Linked DNA regions of Homo sapiens. The protein of the gene in region 3 interacts with the protein of the main gene of each other region in a pairwise test. Each region holds a gene or a part of one and is shown on either strand. Other genes may lie near its edges. The genes, in order: EVI2B, KCNJ6, APOD, GORAB, SIGLECL1, MGST3 and SLC35H1.

Region 1 (3,500 bases), on a different chromosome or scaffold from region 3:
TAGGTACTATAATTAGTAAATAGATTACTGTTAAATAACTTTTTTTAAAAAAAAGTTTCATCTATGCACATAGGCTCTGAGCAGATTTCAGATAGTTCCTGAATAAAAATCAAAATTGACTATCAGTTGCCATTTTATATATGTTAACATATAAAGAAAAAAGAGTCATTTGAGGATGGAAGATCAGCTAAAAAGCAAGTTGTAATATTTATAACAGTTCTGCAGGTGGAGGTGGCAGGGATTCATTAAGATCTTGATCAGAGTTGGGAGGAATAGAGAACTCCTGACACTGGATCTCAAGGTTGGAATCTTCTTGGTTTTTCATAAAATCTACTGGTGGCAGGGGCAAGTTAAGTGAGTCAAGCGGTGGAAATGATTGTATTATCTCAGATTTATGATCTCCACAGTCTTGATTGAGACAGTCCAGAGATGGAGGGAGACTAGTAGAATCATTTGGAAGAGGAGATACAATTGTCATTGTGGGTTTGTCAGATTGGTTACTTTCCTGTCCTTCCAAATCCAGAAGGGGAGGTGGTGGAGGCAGATCTGCATCATCTGAAGAAGAAACAGCAGTTCCAACTGTTGAACCATCAGCACTATCTTCTGATGTACCATTTACTTGATCTTTTATTTTCTCTGTTTTGGGGTTGTTGGAGTCTTCAATGTTTTCACTTGATTCAAACAACTTAATTTCTAAGTCATCTGCTAAAAGTGTGCTTTTGCTTGGTTTCCAGGGTGTAAGTGAAATGATTGATGTACGTTTTGTGGATATTTCATTTTCTCTGATGTTATCCATACAAATGTCAGGGGTTTCTCCATCAGCAAATGGAGATCTACCTGCCCAATTTTGATCATTTAAAACTGGTTTCCTTAAGCATTTCCAAAGTACAATGATGATTATAGCTACCAACATAGAAGTCAGAAGTACACCAATTAGTATGGCAGCTATTGAATTATAATTGTTTTTTTGTGGGGTTTGTTTGTTACTGGTAGTATCTAAGATAAATCCTGGTGTACTCCTAGGTGAATTTTTGACAGTTGATGTTGGTTGTGTGGATGGATTATGAACAGTTATTTGTTTTCTAGAAGGGATCTGGACAGATGATGATTGTTGAGTAAAAGTATAGACAAATGACTTTGGTGGTTGTGTGGTAGAAGTACGGGCAGATGGTAGTTGTCTGGCAGAGGTGAACACGGCTTGCTGGGAGGAGGTGTTGGCTATTGGTGTTGGTTGTTTGGTGTTGTAGGCAAGTGGTTGTCCAGCAGAAGTATGTGCTTCTGGTTTTTCAGAAGAGGTATAGACAGCTGGTGTTGGTTGTCCAGCAGTGACTTTGGCAGGTGATATTGATTGTCCAGAAAAAGTGTCGCTGAATTGTGTTGGTTGACCCAAAGGATTCCCTGTTGTGTTTTGAGAATTAGCCAATACCTGTGACATTGATGATGTGAATAAGGTAGGCTGTGACTGCTTCTCTGTTGTAATTGTCTCTGTCTTTGAAAAAAATGTATTGTTCAGGTGTCCACAAAACAAAATTAAGATGAAATATTTGGGATCCATTTCAGAATATTTCCTCGTTATCTATAGCGGGTTTATAATGAAAGAGAAAGACAGTTAGGCGTCATTGGTGTCTAGTTAAAAATTTGACTTTTCATTATGATTCCTGGCATAAAGTAGGTAGACATTATTCCTAATTAGTAGTAGTTGATTAGTAGTTATTATTCCTAATTTAGACTTGATACACTGTAGGTTTGGTGTAACAACTCTTGGATATACTCTAACCCATCATACAGCATTTGGACCTCATAAGCAGTGATCTCTCTTCTTTTATTAATACAAGTTCTGTACTTGGCTCTGCTGCCCCTCTAGCTTCATTATATTTCAGTACTTCACTTAGTCATACTTCTCAAAACGCATAGGCTCTATATGCTGGATCCATGTGTTCTCTACCTTTTTTCACCATTTTCTACTAGAAATATATTGATTCTCCTGCCTTGAAGAACACCAGTGATCATCTGTTACCTAATCTAATTGTTCTTTATTTCTTCTCTCCCCTCCCCTCCTTGACCACATTAGACACTACTGTTCCTTCACTAATATTCAAGTAGCTTTTTGTAATCAGTCTTCCTTTCATGTTACTCTCACTAGCTCTTTTTCTTCTGCCTCCTAAATATGGTTAATTGATATTCTGTCCTCACCCTTACCTACTTTTCTTTGTTCCTGATTCTGTAAGATTTTAGTTCTCAGCTTTATGCCACAATTCCTAAACCTGTACCTCCAGCCTACATCTTCTTTGTCCTAATTCTATTTGTGTGACTTCTTGGTGGATTTTTCCATATTTTATATATATAGATAGATAGACATAGATATAGATATAAATATCTCCCACTATCAGCAAATTCAACATATTTAAAATGGAGTTCATCTTTACCCTCACAACTGACAACTGACTCTTCTCCCAACTTCTCTGTATCTGTTAATGGTACCACTAAGTTTCTTAGGCACAGAGTCTATTAGTAATCTTTGAAGCATCCTTAGTGTCTCTGTAGCGTGGTAGCCTTATGTTAATATTGCATATTTTTAAAGAATTTCATTCAACTCAGAGTCTTAGGCTTAAAATCCTAGAGTGATCTCTGAATCTGGTGGAGTAAATTCAATCCAGTTGGTCAAGTAGTCCTGCTGCTGCTTTCATTCATCTATTGGTAAATGCCACATTTGTGTGGAGCTCTGTTCTAGGTTTAGGAGATTAAAAAAAAAAAAAAAAGATAGTCACTGCCTTTAAGTGTTTCAGATTCTAGTGATAGAAGCAAACAGTAAAGGCCAGGCGTAGTGGCTCATTCCTGTAATCCCAGCACTTTGGGAAGCCAAGATGGGAGGATCGTTTGAGGCCAGGAGTTCAAGAACAGCATGGACCACATAGTAAGATCCCATCTCTAAATAAAAAGAAGAAAGAAAAAAAGCTAAAAAATAATTACAATAATTTTTTTTTTTTCAAGACAGTCTTACTCTGTCACCCAGGCTGGAGTGTAGTGGCACAATCTGGGCTCACTGCAAATTCCGCTTCCCAGGTTCAACTGATTCTCCTCTCTCAGCCTCCAAGTAGCTGGGATTACAGGTACACATCACCACGCCTGGCCTATTTTTGTATTTTTAGCACAGACGGGGTTTCACCGTGTTGGCCAGGCTGCTCGAGAACTGACCTCAGGTGATCTGCCTGCCTTGGCCTCCCAAAGTGCTGGGATTACAGGTGTGAGCCACCACGCCTGGCCCAATTACAATAATTTGATAAGCTTTCTCATAAAAGTATGCAGGAGATGTACAGAGAAGTTAACCTAGCCTGGAAAGGCTTCAGTGAAGTAAAGCTTGAACTGAATTTTAAAAGTCTATAAAAACTAATTAAGTTTCCAGCCAGGGAGAGCAACAATGTGGGCACAGGAAAATAAGGCACATATGAAAGTTTGGCAGATAGGGCTTTTTCTGGGATGTGGTAGATGCTAAAACTTGG
Region 2 (3,500 bases), on a different chromosome or scaffold from region 3:
GTGCCCTTCATTAGGCTGCAGAGAGGTCAAGCCATGGCTCCTCCCCGCAGCCTCAAGGGGAGTGTATCGAGCTTCCTCCTCCCGGACCACCACCTCCTTCTTAGAGTGTGCGAAATAAAGAAATGATTCAACAGAGATTCAATGCAAAAAAGGAAATGCTGGCAAACAGGAAAGGGCTATAGCCAACAGTTTTGTTTTCCTTAAAGTCAGTGCCAAGAGGCAGTTGTCCTGATCCAAGGTCTCTGAGATGGGAGAAGAGAGGCCCCGAGGTTATATTTAGGAGCCACTTTCCTTATCCTGGGACTTCTTTTTTAGTAGACAAGGTCCCCAGACTACACCAAAGGCCTGTGCGATCAGGTCAGGGAAGGCAAGGGAAACAAAGAGGGACAGCTAGTTTGATCTCTTTGACCTCCATGGTGCAGAGCCTCAAACTGAGCACAGCTGTAGGAGCTGAAAATAAACTTGGATCCATTCAATGAATATTTATGATGGGCAACTGTGTTAAAGAACAAACAGCTTATAAATGCAAAGTGAATGTGAAAGATCTGTAACAGTGCAAAATCTCCACCTGCCCCGGAGGTTTGATCTAAGATTTGTTTCCTTATTTTTTTCATTTTAAAATTCAGATTTCCAGTACAAATACCCTTCCTTCCTTCCTTCCTTCCTCCCTCCCTTCCTCCCTTCTTTCCTTTTTGCAGATTAAAGTGAATTAAGGCTGGAATTTTTTTATTTGTTTTCTTTTGATTGACAGACACTGGATTTGATTTCTAGCCTGTGGCATACTCTAGAGACATTTCTTAGACAATCATCAAGATTGTTGATCTAATCTTTGAATACTGAACTCTGGTCATTTCAAAATAATAAAAGATCACAATGCAAGAAATGCTGATGGATAAGCCCCAGGGACAGGCGAGATGTCATTCTCAGAAAGCCAGATAGAGTCAAAGTGAGAGGTCGATGATTATAATGCATGCCACTCACTACATGCCTTTGTGAATTTCACGGCTTTAGACCCAAACCATCTTCTGCTAACTTACCATGTCTCATTGTAAGAGTGTAGAGAAACTACAGCTGGAGAATCAATGGTTTTGCAGAAAAGTTTCCTAAATTATTGTACTACAAAGGGCAAGAGCTCATGTGAAAAGTAAAAACATACCTTTGGTGACAGGCTAGAGAATATTTCCTTCCTGGTATTCCCCCTCCTCCAGGCCAGTTAGTGAGGCCCTTGTTATCTTTTAAAAAAAGACATCTGTTTTGTAACATTTCACAGTATATCAGCATATTGGTGGTGGGTTTTGCCATCTACCAGACCTCTCAATTTCCCCCAGACCTATGGCTTGTTGGATTCAATGAAAGGATCCGTGTGGGAACAGTGAGGTACCCTAACGTCTGCCAGTCTGAGACACAAACAAAGGCCATGCACTGAAGGGCCAGCCGTCAACTGGATCAAAATAACCTGGAAAACACAGACATCAAAACAGAAATGCCTACTGCATGTTAGGAATCTTTCTTTCTTTCTTTTTTTTTTTGCTTCTTATTTCTAAAGTTATATATCTAAACCTACATTAATGATACATCTATGTACAGTATTTAGCAGTTCTGTTCTATGGTACTTTTGTACATGCTGGGTTTTATTACTAATTACAAAAAGAAAATAATTACATAAGGCATATATATGTACAGTGGTTTGTCTTCAGCTCACCTGGGCCCTGTAACTGCCACACCCACATGGGGGCAAGCACCTCACCCTGTAGTAGATGAAATGAATTGGGATCCATAAAACTGAGGGCTCCACTCTGTGTCTCACTGAATGAATAAATAGGCACCAGAAACCTTGCTTGTCATATCCCAGGTAAAATCTTTGACACACCTTTTTGAGTGATCTGGTATTGTACAACACATGCAGGTAAGTAACTGAAATCTCCAGGAGTTGGATGTGTAGTATTTTGGGAGGAGACCAGGCTTGGGCCACAAATGAGGGCACTTTGCACTTTCATCAAATCCATGTCTACCTTGTCAATCTGAATAACTGAGAGAGGGCAGGTAGATATTTTACACCTTGAAGATTTGTTTTCTGGTCATGTAAAAATTAAATATAAACAAATAAAGAACAAAGCAAGAGAGACAGAAAAAGAAAGAGAATGAGAGACAAGGAAAGATTGTGTTGGGGGGAGAAGAGAAGGGTTTGCCCAGCTAGGGCACTAAACTTTGGATTCATTCTCCAGGTTTGCCACATCACCATTTCTTTCTGTTTGCTCTTCGAGGTTCTTTTCTTCCTCTTCAGTCTCCAGTTCTGCATGTTGGTTGAGTTTGCTGGATACAGACCAACTCAGGGGCAGCTCTGCCCTGCTGGCTAACTCGGCCAGCTCTTTGGCACTAAGGGATGGGGTGCTGGTCTCATAGGTCTCATGGAAGCTGTTGTAGTCAACTTCGTAGAACCCGTCCTCCAGGGTCAGGACAGGTGTGAACCGGTAACCCCACAGGATCTCACTGGTGATGTAGGAGCTTCGAGCTTGGCATGTCATCCCTGCAGAGAGAAGAATGGAGGCTTTAGCATATGTAAGTGTGGGCTTTCCATGGCCAAGGAGTCACAGAGAGCCAGGAGGAGTACTGCATGCAGCTGTTGAGACTGACCTGCATACGATGCCACACTTAGTAGGTGTCATTCATGTTGTAGACACATGCTAATGTGCCATGGAGATTCCAGGCCTCTTAAGGGAGTCCTGGGGAACAATGAGAGAGTCCTGGCCCACATCAAGCCACATTTGCCTGCATGGCCATGCACATGCAAAGGAAATCAAGTGTGCAAATGCACACAAGTTTTCGCATGTGCATGGCTATGTCTGGTCCACTCTGCTCTGGGAGAACCCTGAAGCCATGACTCTGGCCTCCTACTGCTCTTGGAGGTTTAGCCTGGGTTCTAATGGGATTTGAGCTCTTTGGCCACAGACTTAGAATGAAATTTCATATATGGAACTACACTTAGGCTGCTTTTAAGCTAGAGGCCACAGATCAGTGTTACCCTCCCACCTGCCATTAACACACAGGCCATGACTGTGGCTCCAGATGCAGTTGGAAGGGTCACCCACCTGAATTTGCACTTTACTTAGGCCCAGTGGTCATAGTTGCTCAGACTGTGCAATCATAACTACTTTAAAAGCTTTTCCCCCTTCTTTTTTTTTTTTTTCTTTGAGATGGAGTCTCGCTGTGTCGCCCAGGCTGGAGTGCAGTGGTGCGATCTCGGCTCACTGCGACCTCCACCTTCAGGATTCAAGCAATTCTCCTGTCTCAGACTTCTGAGCAGCTGGGACTACAGGTGCACACCGCCATGTCCGACTAATTTTTTTTTGTATTTTAGTAGAGACGGAGTTTCATCGTGTTGCCCAGGCTGTTTATGAACTCCTGAGCTCAGGCAATCCGCCTGCCTCAGCCTCCCAAAGTGTTGGGATTACAGGCGTGAGCCACTGCTCCTGGCCACTTTTCCCTTTTCTTAAAGATAA
Region 3 (2,868 bases):
CCAGAACGGGGGCATCTGGATTCAGGTCACCCAGAATACGCCTTTGCCATCAGCTTCCCCCACTCCAGAAACAGGATTGTTACCTTTAAATGAGGACAATTCAGTGCTTGGTTTTTTTCAACATAACTGCTTAAGGATTTTTTTTTCTGTTTTTCTTTTTAGAGGCAGGGTCTTGCTCTGTTGCCCAGGCTGGAGTGCAGTGGTGCCATCATAGCTCACTGTACCCTCGAATTCTTGGGCTCAAGTCATCCTCCTGCCACCACCTCCTGAGTAGCTAGCACGGGTGTGCACCACCATACCCAGCTAATTTTAAAAACATTTTTGTAGAGATGAGGTCTTGCTATGTTGCCCAGACTGGTCTTGAACTCCCGGCCTCAGGTGATCCTCCTGCCTCAGCCTCCCAAAGTGCTGGGATTACAGGCATGAGGCACCACAACCAGCCTGTTTAAGGATTTCTAAGCATAAGCTTATAATGAAAAACCCACAATAATTAATCCAACTTGGAATCTACTGCGAGCACAGCAGGTCAGCAACAAGTTTATTTTGCAGCTAGCAAGGTAACAGGGTAGGGCATGGTTACATGTTCAGGTCAACTTCCTTTGTCGTGGTTGATTGGTTTGTCTTTATGGGGGGGGGGTAGGGGAAAGCGAAGCAGAAGTAACATGGAGTGGGTGCAGCCTCCCTGTAGAACCTGGTTACGAGAGCTTGGGGCAGTTCACCTGGTCTGTGACCGTCATTTTCTTGACATCAATGTTATTAGAAGTCAGGATATTTTTTAGAGAGTCCACTGTTTCTGGAGGGAGATTAGGGTTTCTTGCCAAGATCCAAGCAAAATCCACGTGAAAAAGTTGGATGATGCAGGTACAGGAATACACGAGGGCATAGTTCTCATAGTCGGTGGCCAGGATCCAGTACGGTGCCGATGGCATAACTGAGAACCAGAGAGAGGCAGCATTATTGGAGGGAGAGGGCAAGAGAAATCTCAGGACAACACAAGAAGGCTGGCCCAGACAACCACCCACCAAGCCCCCCACCTCTGATTTTGTTTATCAATCCAGAAACAGAAAGACCCTGGAAAGAAGTTTGGACGAAAGCCTAGACTGAGTGTTTCTGACTTACCCTTTCTAGCACTGTTGGTGCCCTGCCTGCCTGCCTGCCTCACTCACCCAGAGAGAGAGACAGAGAGAGAGAGAGAGACAGCGTTATAGTCATCACCCATCTGCACATTTCAGCTGCTCTGTGTATTCCCAGGTGGACTGAGAACTCTTAAGCCCAGAGTGATTTTGCAAAAATCTGTCTCCCACCTCTGCCAGCAGCGGCATCATGGCCCACCTGCACTCACCCAGGCTGGCACATTCTGCCTTCCTCTCGTGGTCCAGTTCCGAAGAATAAATTTACCCAGATACAATACAGAAAACTTCACATGTCTCTCCTTATTTGAAAACTTTGACAGTCTCCTATTGTTTATGGAAGAAACTTCAAGCCTTTTAATGTGGCATTCAAGGCCCTTCCTAACCTCATGCCCCTCTTCATGTACACTCCCAGGCTCTAGGCCTCTTTATTCAGGCCTTCTTCTTCTTCGTTTTTTTTTTTTTTTTTTTTTTTTTTTTTTGAGATGGAGTTTCACTCTTGTCGCCCAGGCTGGAGTGCAATGGCGCGATCTCAGCTCACTGCAACCTCCACCTCCTGGGTTCAAGCGATTCTCCTGCCTCAGCATCCTGAGTAGCTGGGATTACAGGCACACGCCACCATGCCCAGCTAATTTTTTGTATCTTTAGTAGAGACAGGGTTTCACCATGTCGGCCAGGCTGGTCTTGAACTCCTGACTTCGTGATATGCCTGTATTCAGGCCTTCTTCTATGTTCCAGTTCCCTTCACTTGGAAATCCTTTTCCATAATCTCCCATAATCCTACAAGGCCTAACGCAAACATCTAATCCTTGTTATGCATGTAATAGTTAGCTTTCACTCCAATCCCCGTCCCTGATCCCTATGGGAAAAATACTCAGTTGAGAGTTTGGAGACCTAGGTTTAGGTCCCAACTCTACTTCTAATGAGTTCAGTGATGGCCTGCGTCACTCAGCCCACCTGCACTTTAGCTCCCTTCTTGATAAAAATAACAAGAGAAACTGTGTATAAAGCCCTTTACAGTTTACAGAGCGTGTGTATCTGGTTTATTTTCACGACACTGGGCAGTTATTTCTGGCTTGTACATGTGAAGTTAGTTGTCCATATTCATAGTGTGAGAAGAACTGTTTTCTCCTCCCAGCATTCCTTTCTTGGTCTATAAAATTAGAACTTCCTCTCCTCCCCGCTCTAGGCACTTGACTGGTGTGGGGTGGAGGAGTGGCAGAGATGAGAAGTAGGAAGTGCAGGGAGTAACTTTTGTAGCTGATGACTTCAGTGTCTACCCTGCAGGTGGGAAAGGGGCTTTCAAGCACTCTTCGTGTTAGAAAGCCTCACAGTTCTGGGTTGAACTCTCTAGTGTATCTTCGTCGGAAATAAAACTAATATTTGGTGCTTTCTCTATTGCCTGTGTCCCTTCCTCAGTTAGCTCAGAACCCAGAGGCAAATGCCTGTCATTAGGTATCTCACAGGATCCCCAACAATGTGACTGGAAAGTGGCAGAAGCAGGATTCAAACTTGCCGTCACTCTTGTCATCTCTTGCTTCCTAGTTTCTGCGCCGTGCAGGTTGTTCTGCTAATATCTGCTAATGTTTCGGGCCCCAGTTTCCTTTGGGAAACAAGACTGGGTTGTGTCTTCTGCAGCCCACACCCGGTGTGCACCTACTTGTGTTTCACCTGTTGAAACGCTAGCTAGTTATAGTAAATTGCGGGGTCACGTGTCAGTATCCACACTGGGATGTGA
Region 4 (4,171 bases), on a different chromosome or scaffold from region 3:
CATTTCAACTTTTCTTGACGTGTTTTATTTTGTACTTTACTCCTTTCTTTCATTTTGTTTAAAAATATCAACACACTAAAGCCAAAGTATTTTAAAATGTAAGCCAAGATGAGGTGTTTTGTTGTTCTTACTGCAAAAATAGTGAAAGAGAACCATGAAAAATAGTATAACTAGGTCTCTCTTGAATCATCCTTATCTATGTGTATTTTGACAACGCTTGCATCTTTTAATCTTTGCAACCATATTTCAAATGAGGAAATGGGATCTCAGGTTAGTGTTCAAGGCAGAACCCGAATTACGGTATTAGGATTCCAGGCAGGATCCTAAGAAATGCTTTCCCATCCCCCAGCACCGACGTTTTACAATGTCTTCTCTGAAAAACAGATTTAAAGGGGAGACTAAGAAATCCCGGCCGGGCGCAGTGGCTCACGCTTGTAATCCCAACACTTTGGAAGCCCGAGGCGGGCGGATACCCTAAGGTCAGGAGTTCGAGACCAGCCTGGCTAACATGGTGAAACCCCGTGTCTACTAAAAATACAGAAAATTAGCCGGGTGTGGTGGCCGGCGCCTGTAATCCCAGCTACTCGGGAGGCTGAGGCGGGAGAATCGCTTGAACCCGGGAGGCGGAGGTTGCAGTGAGCCGAGATCGTGCTATTGCACTCCAGCTTGTGCAACAAGAGCGAAACTATGTCTCAAAAAAAAAAAAAAAAAAAAGTAAGAAAAAAAGAAAAAGAAATCCCTTAAGAGGAAAGTTACATATTATAATTATTCACAAAGGAAACAACCCAAAGCAAAAGAAATCTGAGAGCCGCTCCGGCCTGCGAGAGACCTGGTTATGCCTGTTCCCTTTTCATCAATTATACCCCACCCCTTTTAAATGTTTCTTCATCATCAAAATCCTAAATCTGATCATTTCCTGAGTTAATCTGAAGGAGGCCTCCAGCGCTGTGCACACTCCCAGCAAAACACAAGGATTTTAGGGCACACTAAGAGCCACAGAGAGCACCGCTCCCGCCCCACAGGTACAGGACCCCAAAGGCACTTAGATCTCCCGTTTCCGCCACCGACTTGTTGCTCCTTCCCAAATACCTGTTTATCTCCACCCTTATCCCCATCGCCATTTCCCCCCTTAGCTCCTGAAGCGATTAACCAGCAACAGTGAGAAACAATGAGAGAGAGAGAGAGTAGAGGTAAGCCAGAGGAAACGAATGTCTGCGTGGCAAGGTTTCCTTAGGCAGTTTGTCAGGCACTGCTGAAGGCAGCCTGGAAGGAAGCCGGACCCTGAGGCCGGGGAGAGAGGGCCTTGTGTTTGGAGCCCGATGCACTGATTGGCCGCGGCCGGGGAAAAACCCGGATGAGCTGGGCAGCAGTGTTGGCAGTCGCGGCTGCGAGATTTGGGCACTTTTGGGGGTGCCGGTGGCCCGGGCCGATGGCGCAAGGTTGGGCAGGATTCTCTGAGGAGGAACTGAGGAGACTAAAGCAGACTAAAGGTTACAAGATGGGTTTACAGTGGTTTAATTCTTGGGTCTTAAGGGGAAGAGGCGGGGATGCAGCTTTGGCGGGGAAAGGGGGCGTGGAAGCGGCTACGTTTGTGTTAGCGGAAGGCGCTGTAAGTACGTGGACTGGATTAGGGGGTTTCAGAGGAGGACTTACTGGGAGTCACGACGGGAGGGGCAAGCCAGAGGACTGGGATCTTCTTTTAGAAAAAACGGTCCAGGAATCCACTGTAGGGATTTGACTCTTGTGAAAGGAATGGGACTTGGGAGAGGAAGTGAGCCTACAGCCGGGGTGTCTCCCTTAGGGAAGATTGCTGCAGGAATCAACGGTTGGAAGGTTAGGGTCAGGGTAAGGGAAGGAGGAGGGGCGCACACCGTATTAGAATTGTGATGAATTTATAGAAGCAGATGGTTGGAAAAAAGGAGCACAGGCGTCTGAATAAAGGCAAAAATTCGGTACTTTTCACAATTCATCTGGAGTGTTGCATTCACTTCTGGTTGCCAGATGATTTTTGCAGTACTTCCCAATTTTTGAGAATCAGCAAACCAAAAGGGTCTTTGAGAGGGTAGATGTGAAGACTTTATATGTTTATATACATACAGTCTTACTGACTTTGGAGTAAGCTAACCTTGTGCTTCTCTCTCTGGCTTTATAGAGTAATCATTGAATGGGCTTGTACAATTTTTTTGTTGTTGTGGAAGGAATTAAGTTTGCTGATTGTTGGTGGAAAACTTAGTAATATTAATTGCACTTTGCTTGTGGTTGAAATTTCGCAGTGATCTGTATGGTTATCGTGGTAGTACACACAATTTCTGTAAGAAGTGTACATCACTCTTGGTACCTTAATTCAAATACTTTATTTTGGTAGCAAATGAAGTAAACCTTTTGTTAGCGTTTGTGGGGAAATTGGATGTTGCTCTGGTAGCTTGTGCATTTTTAGCATAAATATGAGAATAATCTAGGGCAGACAAGTGGGAAAAGAAGTAAATTAGTAAGATAGGGCCAATGTAGATTATATCGACTGGGGACATTTTGACTGGTCCAGGGGACTTTAAAAACTCTATCATAAAGGTTAGGCTAAGCTATGTAGTTAACTGACTCTGTGTTGCTTGATATACTCAAATTCTTTTGCTTTGTGTTTTCAACATCCATTCACATACTTTGATATACAGGGTACAAGTGCCCTGGCCTCTGGTCTGACTCCAGTAGACTCATGAGGAGACAAACCACAAAGTTATGTGATAGTAGATATTGCAAGAACTTGCTTCAGAGACAAGAGGAACCTCACTCTGCCGGGGATTGGATGGAGCTTGGGAAGATTTCACAAAGTTTGTGTGTTAGCAGAGGCGCATTTTCCAGGGTAAAGATGACTTAATATAAAAATCTAAATTAAACAACATATTCATTATGTAGAAGTATATTTTGAAATATCTTTGCAACCGGGGGTAGATAGAGGATGGTGAGGACCTGAACTTCAAGGCCCACTGTAGTGTGGAAACCAAATCGCTAGTCCGTGACCACCTCGAGGACGGAAAATATCTTAACCTCCTTGTATACCCGTAGCTAAACACAGTGATTGGCATATAGAACTTCCAGCTCTTCCTCTAAATCTTTTCTCCTTGGATTCCTTATTTGTAAAATTAGAGGATTTGGCCCTTTAATTTTAAAGCCATTTCTAGCTGTTCTCTATCTTTAAAAATTTATTGAATAATTTAGGAAGATGGAGTTGGTTGCCAGGAAAAATAAGGACAGTAGTACTCTGGAGACCCCTGTATGGGCATTGAGGAACATAGTCAAGAAAGTTGTTAATAGTCTTGTTTATAATATTAAGAAGTTGGAAACAACCAAAGTGTCCATTAACAAGGGAATGGATAAATAAATTGTGGTATACTCATCTAGCGGGCTACTGTACAGCTGGTGGGAATATATTAGTATTAACTGTAGCCACATGCATTAAAATGTTTGTTAATACAGTATATGTAGTTACACTTGGCCCTTGAACAACACAAGTTTGAACTGTGATGGTTCACTTATACACAAATGTGCATTTAAAAAATACAGTATTTGGGGGATGCAAAACCTGAGTATATGGAGGGCCAACTTTTGGTGTATGTGGTCTTCACAGCGCCAACTGTGGGACTTGAGTATGCACAGATTTTGGTATACATGGGGATCCTGGAACCAATTATCCTCATATACCAAGGATCAGCTAGCTGTATATATAATATATACAGTCACGCACTCAATAACAGTATTTCAGTTAGCAGCGGACCACATATATGGTGATGGTCTGGTAATATTATAATACCCTGTTTTTACTATGCTTTTTCTATGTTTAGATACACAAATACCGTTGTTACAGTTGCCTACAGTCTTCAGTATAGTGACATACTGTACAGGTTTGGAGCTTAGGAGCAAAAGGCTGTACCATATAGCCTAAGTATATAGTAGGCTGTACCATCTAGGTTTGTGTAAATACACTCTCTGATGTTTGCGCAAGGACAAAATTGCCTTACAACACATTTCTTAGAATGTATCCCTTTGTTAAGTGACGTATGATTGTATATAGTGGGGAGGCGTGGGAATGTGATCAGGGAGAGGGAATTTCAGAGGTATTGGTATTTATGAAATCAGGTTAAGACAAGTTAAGCTAAAGTAACAAATAGCCCTAATA
Region 5 (3,500 bases), on a different chromosome or scaffold from region 3:
TTTTTGGACTATGTTAGTAGGCAAACACAAATTTTAAATATATACTTTATTCCTGTTAATGTCAGCTTATCATTAGGAGATATGCCATTCTATCTTTGGTAATGCCTTTTGCTTAAAGTCTGCTTTATGGGATGTTAATGTAGGTATGTCTACATTACCTGGCTTTCTGGTTGGTATTTGCTTGGTGTATGTTTTCATTCTTTGGTTTTTTCTTTTTTTCTTTTTTTGAGACGGAGTCTTGCTCTGTCGCCCAGGCTGGAGTGCAGTGGCATGATCTCGGCTCACTGCAAGCTCTGCCTCCCAGGTTCATGCCATTCTCCTGCCTCGGCCTCCTGAGTAGCTGGGATTACAGGGGCCCGCCACCACACCCAGCTAATTTTTTGTATTTTTAGTAGAGACGGGGTTTCACCGTGTTAGCCAGGATGGTCTGGATCTCCTGACCTCGTGATCCGCCCGTCTCGGCCTCCCAAAGTGCTGGGATTACAGGCATGAGCCACCGCTCCCGGCCCATTTGGTTTTTTAACTGTCCTTTACACTTATGCTTTGGTTGTGTCTTTTGTAAACAGCATGGAGTTTGGCTTTGCTTCTTTTTTCCAATATGATGATCTTAGATTCATAACTGGATAATTTAAGCCATTTATATTTAGTTAAATCACTGATGTATTGGAGTTTAAATCTAACATCTAGGTACATGATTTCTACTTGTCCCAACCGTTCTATTCTCTTTTGTATCCCTTCTGTTTGTTTCTCTGTCTTTATTTTCAAACAAGCTTTTAAATCAAAGTACAATTTTATACAGAGAAGTATTAATACAGATAGTAAGTATACAACTCAAATTATCACAAAGGGAGCAGACCAGTGTAACCACCACTGAGGTCAAGAAATAGAACATTAACAACACCCCAAACACTCCACTCATGTACTACACCATTCATTACCCCCTTTATCCTTGCTATGTTCTGGATGCAAGCACGTTGTATGTGTTGCAAGTATGTTCTCCAGCCCTGCAACTTGCATTTGTCCTCCTTAATGGTATCTTTTGATGCAGAAATTAATTCTGATACAGTCCATTTTATCCATATTTCCTCATAGCTAGTGCTTTTTGGCCCTTTTAAAGAAATATTTCCTTACCTAAAACTTACCAAGATACTCTCCTATGTTGTATTAAAGAATTCCACTGACCAATGTGGTAGCTACTAACTACATATGGCTATTGAGCCCTTATATTATGGCTAGTCTGAATTGAAGTGTGCTGTAAGTGTAAAATATATACAAGATTTTGAAGAGTGTATAAAGAATGTACCAAATCTTAACAATTTTGTGTTGATTGCATGTTGAAATATTGGGTTAGGTTCAATATGAATAACCTAGTGAATAACCTAGGTTTCTTTCACTAGGTTAAATGAAACATCATTAAAATTAATTTTACCCATTTCTTCCTTTTTAATGTGGCTGCTAGAAAATTTAAAATTATACATGTAGTCCACATTTATAGGTCACATTATATTTCTTCACACAGCACTGTTCTAGAAAAAAAGTCTAAGGACTTTCCCAATGTCCCTAGAAGTTATTTTTATGTATGACATGAGGTAGGGGTCTTATTTCCTTTTGCTGTATGGCTGTCCAGTTATTCTGACACAATTTATTCAAAAGAGAGTCCTTTAACTTCTATGCAGTGCCATATTTATCCTAAACCAAGTGATCACATATGTATAGGTATTTTTCTAACCATATAGCCTGTCCCATTGGTATTTTTATTTATCCTTGTGTCAATACCATACTCTATGAATTACTATGTATGTATGTATGTATTTTATTTATTTACTTATTTATTTTGAGATAAAGTCTTACTCTGTAGCCCAAAGCTACAGTGCAGTGGCGTGATCACGGCTGACTGCAGCCTTGACCTCCCTACCTCAGGTGATCCTCCCACCTTAACCTTTCAAGTAGCTGGGACTACAGGTGCGTACCACCACACCCAGATAATTTTTGTATTTTTTGTAGAAACGGGGTTTTACCATGTTGCCCACGCTGGAATTACTATGGATTTTTAAGTCATGATATCCAGTAGGAATTGGAATTGATCATTTTTTTGAGACAGGGTCTCGTGCTGTCTCTTTTTTAATAGAAATTTACTGAGAACAAATTTATTAAATAAATGTCTACATGGGATATAAAAGGGAACATTGTGCCATGCTATACAATGTTACTTACACCATTCATTTCAAATTTTATGGCAAAACAATTATACTGTGGTAGGGAGATGTTGTTTTACACTTCTCACCAAACTAAACATTATCATATTTTTCCTGAGAGAATGTCAACACTTTGCTATCTTAAGTGATCACACCACTGCAATCCAGACTGGGTGACAGAGAGAGAGAAAGACCCTGTCTCAAAAACAAAAACAAACCGGGCATAGTGGCTTATGCCTGTAATCTCAGCTGTTTGGGAGGCCAAGGCGGGTCAGGTGTTTGAGACCAGCCTGGCCAACATGGTGAAACCTCATCTCTACTAAAACTACAAAAATTATTTGGCCATGGTGGTGAATACCTGTAATTCCAGCTACTCGGGAGGCTAAGGCAGAAGAGTCGCTTGAACATGGGAGATGGAGATTGCAGTGAGCCGAGATCGAGCCACTGCACTCCAGCCTGGGCGACAGAGTAAGATTCCATCTCAAAAAACAAAAATAAAACAAAGAATAAAGCAGACATGACACTGAGGCTTCACAGACAATCTTAGTTGCCTCCCTGTCCGTACGTGCTCATGAGCCTCTCATCCCATATAATTCCTGCTTCTCCAGGTGAACAGGCCTTCACGATGACCAGAGACAGAAGCCCCTGACTTGGCTAAAGATACTTCTGCTCTCCCCATCCCCACATCCTCTTTCAGTTACGCATCACCTCACTCCTTCTGAACCATATGGTTCTGATGTCAGAGCCAGTGTAGTAAAGAGCTTCTGCTGTTCCTGAGAACTGTTGCTGCTGGAAGTGATGCTTCCACTGCTACAGCTGGGTAAGTAAGGTGAGAAGCAGCACTGGAGGTGTGTTTGGAAGCCAAGACTCCAGGGCCTGGGTGTTGGCAGGGCAGAGGATGGGCTATGGAGGCATGGAGAAAGAGGACATATGGGCATAAGTACCAAATAATCAACATGAATTAGACAGCTTCTGTGTGTCAGATTTTGACAGGGCTGGTGTGTCTGAAGCAAATAGCAAATTGGGCAAGGGAGAGGGATGGAGAGTGTAGGTGCTATGAAGGCATGAGAGCACTAGGAGCTGTTTCAGACATTACTGGAAGCCCTGAAGTTAAGTTTTTCAGTGTTTCTGTGGGCACACTTTGCCAGGTGGAAAAGACAATTCAGAGGACAGCCATAGAGGGGTCCGTACATGAGAGTCCCCCGCAGATTCCTCAACAGCGCCCCGCAAGTGACTCAGGTGAAGAGACCGAGATCAGGAGCTACTGGTTAGGGGAAAATTACCCCTTTCTTCCAGTAACCTCAA
Region 6 (3,500 bases), on a different chromosome or scaffold from region 3:
AACATGCAAACAAAAAACAGCTTCAGGGAGTGGGAACTCTTTTTTTGTTTTGAGACAAAGTTTTGCTCTTCCCCCCAGGCTAGAGTGAAGTGGCACGATCTAGGCTCACTGCAACCTCCGCCCCCTGGGTTCAAGTGATTCTCCTTCCTCAGCCTCCCGAGTAGCAGGGATTATAGGTGCCCACCATCACACCAGGCTCATTTTTGTATTTTTAGTAGAGACGGGGTTTCACCACGTAGGCCAGGCTGGTCTCGAACTCCTGACCTCAGGTGATCCACCTGCCTCAGCCTCCCAGAGTGCTAGGATTACAGGCACCTGGCCAAGAATGGGAACTCTTCTGGGGAAAACACACGGCAATGGCATAGAGACTGGGCAGGGCTGTTGCATCAGGATCCCGGCTGGGAAGGCCTCCTTTGTGTGGCATTGAATATAGTATACCTCTCTAGATGGACTATGTGCTCTTTGAGGACAGAGAGCGTGTCTCCTTGCTTATATTTTTTATAGCAACTTGCATGAAGACAGAAACTCAGTAGAATGCTGCTGTTCTATATCCTAGATCAGTGGTTCTCAAACTTTGGTGGCATTAAAATCACCTGGAGAGTTTGTTAAAACATACCTCAGTCCCAGAGTTTCTGGTTCAGTCATGTTAGGTGGGGCCTGAGTATTATCATATCTAACTAGTTCCTAGGTAATGCTGATGATGTTGGTCAAGGACCACATTTTAAGAACCACTGTTCTGAGCAAAAACAAAATTTGCAGGAGGTGGTGATTCTATCTGATTCAAAACCACAGTCACAGTCTTGTCTTGGTGGTTATATTCTACTACTATCTTTGGAGGCTCCTGAGGTGCTCCTTCTGTACCACCCCTGAAAACAGAATGGGGCTGATGAGATCAGAGACTGTTGTGAAGAGCAAGCTCCAGCTAAGCTCTTCACAATTACACACTAACAGTGTGCCCAGCAGAAGACTGACTTCTTCTTTCAGCTTTAACAGAGGTTCGAGACAACAAAGCAAGTGTGTAAGCCAGCTCAGTATCTTCAGAGTCTCTATCCTGTGACCACCATTGGGTTACCAGATCTCACTTCATGGTCATGGTCACTCACCAGATCAGATTTTCCCATAGTCAAATGAGTCAGAGTTCTAGGTTCTCCATCCTTCAAAAGTAATGCTCATTATGCTACAGAATGACCTCTCTGGGATCATCCCTTCTAATACCATGGATCAGGCATACCTCAACTTCTGAATGATTAGAAACATGACTTCAAATGAAAGGCCTATTTAATGAATCAGTAGGACTTCCAGCCAACTTCTCATGGAATTTTTCATCCCATCTGGCAGAAACAGCAAAACTGAAAATATCACTACTACATATATAATACCTAACTATAAGACCTGGTCCCATAGAGTGCTTCTTTTGTTTTGTTTTGTTTTGAGACAGGGTCTTGCTCTGTCACCAAGGCTGGAGTGTAGGGGTGCTATCTCAGCTCACTGCAGCCTCTGCCTCCCGGGTTCAAGCAATTCTCATGCCTCAACCTCCAGAGTAGCTGGGATCACAGGCACATGTCACTACACCCAGCTAATTTTTGTATTTTTAGTAGAGATGGGGTTTCGCCATGTTGGCCAGGCTGGTCTCGAACTCCTGACCTCAAGCAGTCCACCTGCCTCAGCCTCCCAAAGTGCTGGGATTACAAGCATGGGCCACCGCGCCAGGCCTAGAGTGCTTCTTTTATGGCAGGCACTGTAACAGAGTTTAGATATTTTAACACTTTCCATCCTTACAACAATCCCATATGATAGTTACTATTATTATCCCCATTCTATGGATGAGGAAATGGAGGCAAAGAGAAATTCAACAATTTGCCTAAGGTCCCACAGCTGATGAGTGCACAGCTGGTGTCTGAATACAGGCAGACTGATGCCAGTGTCCATGCTTTTTGCTACTAACACACTACTGGGTTTGTCCCTTACTCAGAAGTTAAATCACCTCTTCCCCCAGTACGGGAAGCACCGAGGGGAAAGTCCTCTGCAACGTTCAATTGAAGGCAATTGAATCCTGCTGCACCACAGGCTTCTACTCCAGGAGAGAAACAGAGCCAGGGCCCAAGAGCATAGGGGAGGGAGAGACAGATCCACGATCGTTGGAATACTTTACATAGAGGATCATACCATCTGCAAAGAGAGACAGTTTTACTTCTTCCTTTCCAATGTGGATGTCTTTTATTTATTTTTTTTTCTTGACTGATTGTCCTGGTTAGGGGCAATGCAATGTTGAATACCAGTGGCAAGTGCCGACATCCTTGCCTCTTTCCTCATCTTAGGGGGAAGCATTCAGTCTCTCTCCTTTAAATATGTTATTAGTGGCTGGTTTCCACAGATGCCCCTTTTAAGAATACTTTAGAAACCTAATTATTTCTAGAATGTGGGTTTTTTTTTTTTTTTAAGACGGAGTCTCTCTCTGTCCCACAGGCTAGAGTGAGTGGCAGAGTGCAGTGGCACGATCTTGGCTCACTGCAACCTCCACCTCCTGGGTTCAAGTGATTCTCCTGCCTCAGCCTCCTAAGTAGCTGAGATTACAGACATGCACCACCATGCCCAGCTAATTGTTGTATTTTAGTAGAGACAGGGTTTCGCCATGTTGGCCAGGCTGGTCTTGAACTCCTGACCTCAAGTGATCCACCCTCCTTGGCCTCCGAAAGTGCTGGGATTACAGGTGTGAGCCACCGTACCTGGCTGGGTTTTTGTTTTGTTTTGTTTTTGTTTTGAGACAGGGTCCCCCTCTGTCATCCGGGCTGGAGTGGAAGTGGCACAATCAGGGCTCACTGCAGGCTTGACCTCTGGACTCAAGCAATCCTTCTGCCTCAAAGTAGCTGATATTACAGGTGTGTGCCACCATGCCCAGCTAATTTTTTGTATTTTTAGTACAGACGGGGTTTCGCTATGTTGGCCAGGCTGGTCTCGAACTCCTGAGCTCAAGCAATTTGCCTCTCTCAGCCTCCCAAAGTGCTGGGATAAGAGGCATGAACCACTGCTCCTGGCCCTATAATGTTTTAAAAACACAGCAGCACTTCTATTTGTAACTTTTACATTTATCAGTGTATTACTTGCCAAACATGATTGTTTTGGAGTACATTATCAAGTTAGGGGAAGAAAACTAGGAACAGTATTTTGAAGCAAGCAGGGTATAGGACGTGGGGGGTAGCAGAAAAGCCCCGGGCCATGGTAGGTTTTCAGGGGTAGATTAGGAGACTAACATGCCCTGGTAAGCAGCAGGGCTCTGACGTCCGTGGGTGGTAGAATAGCAAAAACTTTTCAGTGTAGCCAGAGTTAGCAGACACCCAATGGGTTTTAAGTAAGCTACAACACACACATTTGCAAAGTTTCAGTTTAGGAGTGATCAGACTTGGGCTTAAGATGAGGCAGTGTTGGTCTAACTCCTAAAACACATGCTCCATTCCAGCATTTGAGTTAGCAACACAGGGGTTCATTATGACATCTGGCTA
Region 7 (3,500 bases), on a different chromosome or scaffold from region 3:
ATCGCTTGGAATGACAGACTCTTAGGTCACGAAGACAGGTGGCAGCCAAGAGACTCAATCCTAGCCTGGTGCTGTCTCCACCATTTCAACACACCTGTGAGCTACCTGCCCAGCCTTCCTCACGGCCTATGCCCAAGTGAGAGCCACTGCGGCCCACTACGTTGTATCACTTATTAAAATATTGAAATACTTCTCTAGTGGGGTAAATAGCTGCTGCTTGAGCCCCAGTTTCCCCAGCTCATCCCTTCACACCCCCCGCTCTCCTTGGTTTCCCTGGATCCAAACACTGAAGGGGAACCCTGGCACGGCAGGCTTGGAGGGCCCTGTTCCAGCCCAGCCGTGACTGGCTTCCAGTTAGACTGGTTGAAGCTTGTGCCTTCCTGTTAAACATGAAGGGCACCGTAGCCATGGCTCTGGCCACCTTCATCCCAGCACCCCGCCCCAGCAAGGCCTCCTGGTACCTTTGTCAGCCACTTGTTGTAGAAGGTGATGCCGATGGAGAAGCAGTAGTAGAGAAGCACCAGCCCCAGGGTCAACACCGCCTTCCACAAAAAGGCCACATCGAGGGCCCACCTCCCCATTCGTGGCGGCTGCAGCACCGGAGCTCCTGAGTCAGCGGGGGCAGGCACCCCTCTTGAATACAATGTGCAGGAAGAGCCGGTGGAGTTAGACCACAGCTTTCACCAAGAACGTCTCCAGGCTGGAGGAGCTCTCTGCAGCTCCATGATTCGGAACCATCAGCAGAGCCCCAGGCAGAGTCCTCACCTAAGGGGCTGGTGGCTGGTGCTGACCCTTCCCATGGTTAATTGGATGCAGCGCTCACAGGTCCCAAGGTCTGCTGCTGGGGAAAAAGGGCCGCTCTGGAGCCTCAGGCAGAGACTGTGCTTCTCGTAGCCATGGGTGCCTCTGAAGGCTGCGTGACTCAGGGCTCTGGAGGGGCTGCCCACAACGGCACAGGCAGTCCCAGAGACCCACGTCGTGTCTGCTGTCTTGTCACCTCAAGCTATTCTCCATGAACTGCCACCAAAGTGACCTTTTAAAACACAAACTGATCATGTCAGGCCACTGCTTAAAACCCTTCAGCAGCTTCCAGTGCTTTTCTGATAAAGACCAGCACCCTTCTTTCGGCTCCCATGGCCTCATCTGGCCCTGCTGGTCTTCCCAGTCTCAGCCACAGGCTCTCCAGGACCTGGCCCCACTGGGCGCCTTTCAGCTCCCCAAACACACCAGCTTTCTTCCCGTTGTCTGAAGGAAATGAACGAACACTGCACCCACCCTTCAGTCCTTCATCAATCCTACCTATCTTCAGCTCAGAGGTCACTTCTTCAGGGAACCCCACCCCATCCCCTGAATCAGTCCCCTGAGATACATGTTGCTTTCACGGCTCTCCTACTTCTCTTTCATAGCACTTGTGCAGGGTGTGATTTGAGTAATGTCTGTCCCCTGAGAGGCTACGAGCGGCACAAAGATAGGGACCAGTAAGACCACACTGGCCTTACGCACAGCTGGTGTACTTTAAGTTCTCCGTCTGGTTTGATGACTGACAGAGAGCAGGCATGCGATTTTCAGGGGACTGGTCTGGTCTTTAGGGGTTAAAAATGGAGAAGGAAACCAACACTCTAACGGCTGGAACACTGTAAGACCAGGCTGTAACCACTACTCCCTGGAAGCAGAGCCTGCCTTACGGTATTGCCAAATGAAACCACTCCCAGCCTCCCTGTCAATCCAGCCAACCCTGATGAGTGCCCGGAGCATGCCGGGTAGACCTGTCTGTGCCTGGAGGAGCCTCAGGTCCAGTGTTATGTGATGATACCTGCTGCTTCATCTGGGTGCCCCCCTCAACCACAGATCCTCCTTTGAGACATTCCCATCCTATTGAAACGCCACCTTCTTCTCGAAGCCTTCCTAGGCTTCACGATCAGACACATTCTCCATCTCCCACCCCAACATTTCTGAAGGGAGCAGTTACATTCCATTCTGCACTCTGGAACTCTTGTTACTATTTCCCCTCCCCGGGGCAAACAGGGAGCTGGCTGTGTCCAAATGAATCTCTGGGGCTACAGTTGTCTTCAGAGGAGCTTTGGAAACCTGTGGCGGTATTTTGGGGATATGCTCCTGGCGTTCAGTAAGCAGGGATAAAGAAGGGGCAGTCCACATAGCCAATTACTGCTCTGCATCCCGCACGACTTTGACATCCATATAGGTGAAAGATTAGCTTATAATTATCTGAACCTAGAATGTAACTCTGTTTACATGTAAACACAGTGCAGTGTTTCCATGGTTCTGCTGTGAACTAACACTTCCAAGAATAAGACGCCTATGTACAATGAAGGGAGACTGAAAATGGTCAAAATTGGTCTCAAAATGGCACCAAAAGTGTCCATTCTGGAAAAACCACATCATCTACAGCAATGGCACTAGTGGTTTTCGAGGTGCGACACAACACGGCTGTGTCAGTCTGTGTCTGTGGCCATCACACTCCTAGAGGGTCCACACAGAAGGGACAGCTTCACTGCAACTTCCAGCACTATTGTGCCCAGAAACTTACATATTGAAACATATTTTGTTTTACTATCAATTACTTTCCTTTTATGTTATAGGGCATGGTTATTTATATTTTATTTTATTTTTTTTTTGAGACGAAGTTTCGCTCCTGTTGCCCAGGCTGGAGTGCAATGGTATAATCTCGGCTCACCACAAGCTCCGCCTCCCAGGTTCAAGCGATTCTCCTGCCTCAGGCTCCCTAGTAGCTGGGACTGATTACAGGCATGCACCACCACACCCGGCTAATTTTTTATATTTTTAGTAGAGATGGGGTTTCTCCATGTTGGTCAGGCTGGTCTTGAACTCCCAACCTCAGGTGATCCGCCCGCCTTGCCTCCCAAAGTGCTGGGATTACAGGCGTGAGCCACCGCGCCCGGCTGCATTTGTTGATTTTTAAAAAATTATGTGTAGGCAGTTTTTATTAATCATATGTTTCATTTTAGGGTAATAAAAGGGACTGTTACAAAATATTTGTAATAAAAAAGAGGTGTCAGATCCAATGAGTTGAGACTCCTACCTGACCTAATGCATTCTCATTCCTTCAAATGCCTTCTGTAAGCTGATGTCTTCCCAATATATGCCCCGGCTCTGATTCATGTGAACTCCAGAAGAATATCCAATGCCTACCTAACCTCTTCTTCCCTTAGATATCTAATATCAGGCATCTCACTCACATCTAGAGTGTCTGAAACTGACTCGTGTTTTCCACACCCCCATTTCATCCAAGCCTGCTCCTCTTCCTACTTCCCATCCCAGCAAATGGCTCCACTACTCTCCTAGTTGCTCAGGCCAAAAGCCTTAGGCTCATCTGATTCCTCTCTTCCCCTTAGCCCACATTCAATCAATAAATACCGTCAGCTCTATCTTCAGAAATATCCCAAATATGAGCACATGTCCTGAACTCCACCACTACCATCTCAGCCACCATCCTCTCCCCAAATGACTGCAGGAGTCTC

What was found.
Region 1: the proteins of APOD (region 3) and EVI2B interact in binary tests that used the Homo sapiens proteins (3 or more experiments, as listed by UniProt).
Region 2: the proteins of APOD (region 3) and KCNJ6 interact in binary tests that used the Homo sapiens proteins (3 or more experiments, as listed by UniProt).
Region 4: the proteins of APOD (region 3) and GORAB interact in binary tests that used the Homo sapiens proteins (3 or more experiments, as listed by UniProt).
Region 5: the proteins of APOD (region 3) and SIGLECL1 interact in binary tests that used the Homo sapiens proteins (3 or more experiments, as listed by UniProt).
Region 6: the proteins of APOD (region 3) and MGST3 interact in binary tests that used the Homo sapiens proteins (3 or more experiments, as listed by UniProt).
Region 7: the proteins of APOD (region 3) and SLC35H1 interact in binary tests that used the Homo sapiens proteins (3 or more experiments, as listed by UniProt).

The regions. Positions count from the first base shown.
Region 1 is NC_000017.11:31,304,055-31,307,554, forward strand, and holds part of EVI2B (protein EVI2B precursor), read right to left. Parts: intron 1,577-3,500; 5' UTR 1,556-1,576; coding exon 209-1,555; 3' UTR 1-208. UniProt on the Homo sapiens protein: Required for granulocyte differentiation and functionality of hematopoietic progenitor cells through the control of cell cycle progression and survival of hematopoietic progenitor cells.
Region 2 is NC_000021.9:37,622,958-37,626,457, forward strand, and holds part of KCNJ6 (G protein-activated inward rectifier potassium channel 2), read right to left. Parts: intron 2,528-3,500; coding exon 2,202-2,527; 3' UTR 1-2,201. UniProt on the Homo sapiens protein: Inward rectifier potassium channels are characterized by a greater tendency to allow potassium to flow into the cell rather than out of it.
Region 3 is NC_000003.12:195,568,205-195,571,072, forward strand, and holds the end of APOD (apolipoprotein D precursor), read right to left. Parts: intron 932-2,868; coding exon 696-931; 3' UTR 501-695; downstream 1-500. UniProt on the Homo sapiens protein: APOD occurs in the macromolecular complex with lecithin-cholesterol acyltransferase. It is probably involved in the transport and binding of bilin. Appears to be able to transport a variety of ligands in a number of different contexts.
Region 4 is NC_000001.11:170,530,795-170,534,965, forward strand, and holds the start of GORAB (RAB6-interacting golgin), read left to right. Parts: upstream 1-1,371; 5' UTR 1,372-1,429; coding exon 1,430-1,490; intron 1,491-1,653; exon of another isoform or gene 1,654-1,815; intron 1,816-2,669; exon of another isoform or gene 2,670-2,857; intron 2,858-4,171.
Region 5 is NC_000019.10:51,261,080-51,264,579, forward strand, and holds part of SIGLECL1 (SIGLEC family-like protein 1), read left to right. Parts: intron 1-2,803; 5' UTR 2,804-2,993; coding exon 2,994-3,015; exon of another isoform or gene 3,016-3,098; intron 3,099-3,500.
Region 6 is NC_000001.11:165,637,734-165,641,233, reverse strand, and holds part of MGST3 (glutathione S-transferase 3, mitochondrial), read right to left. Parts: intron 1-3,500. UniProt on the Homo sapiens protein: Displays both glutathione S-transferase and glutathione peroxidase activities toward oxyeicosanoids, as part of cellular detoxification as well as synthesis of bioactive metabolites.
Region 7 is NC_000020.11:46,357,926-46,361,425, forward strand, and holds part of SLC35H1 (solute carrier family 35 member C2), read right to left. Parts: intron 1,034-3,500; exon of another isoform or gene 839-1,033; 5' UTR 801-838; coding exon of another isoform or gene 766-800; 5' UTR 634-765; coding exon of another isoform or gene 582-633; coding exon 462-581; intron 1-461.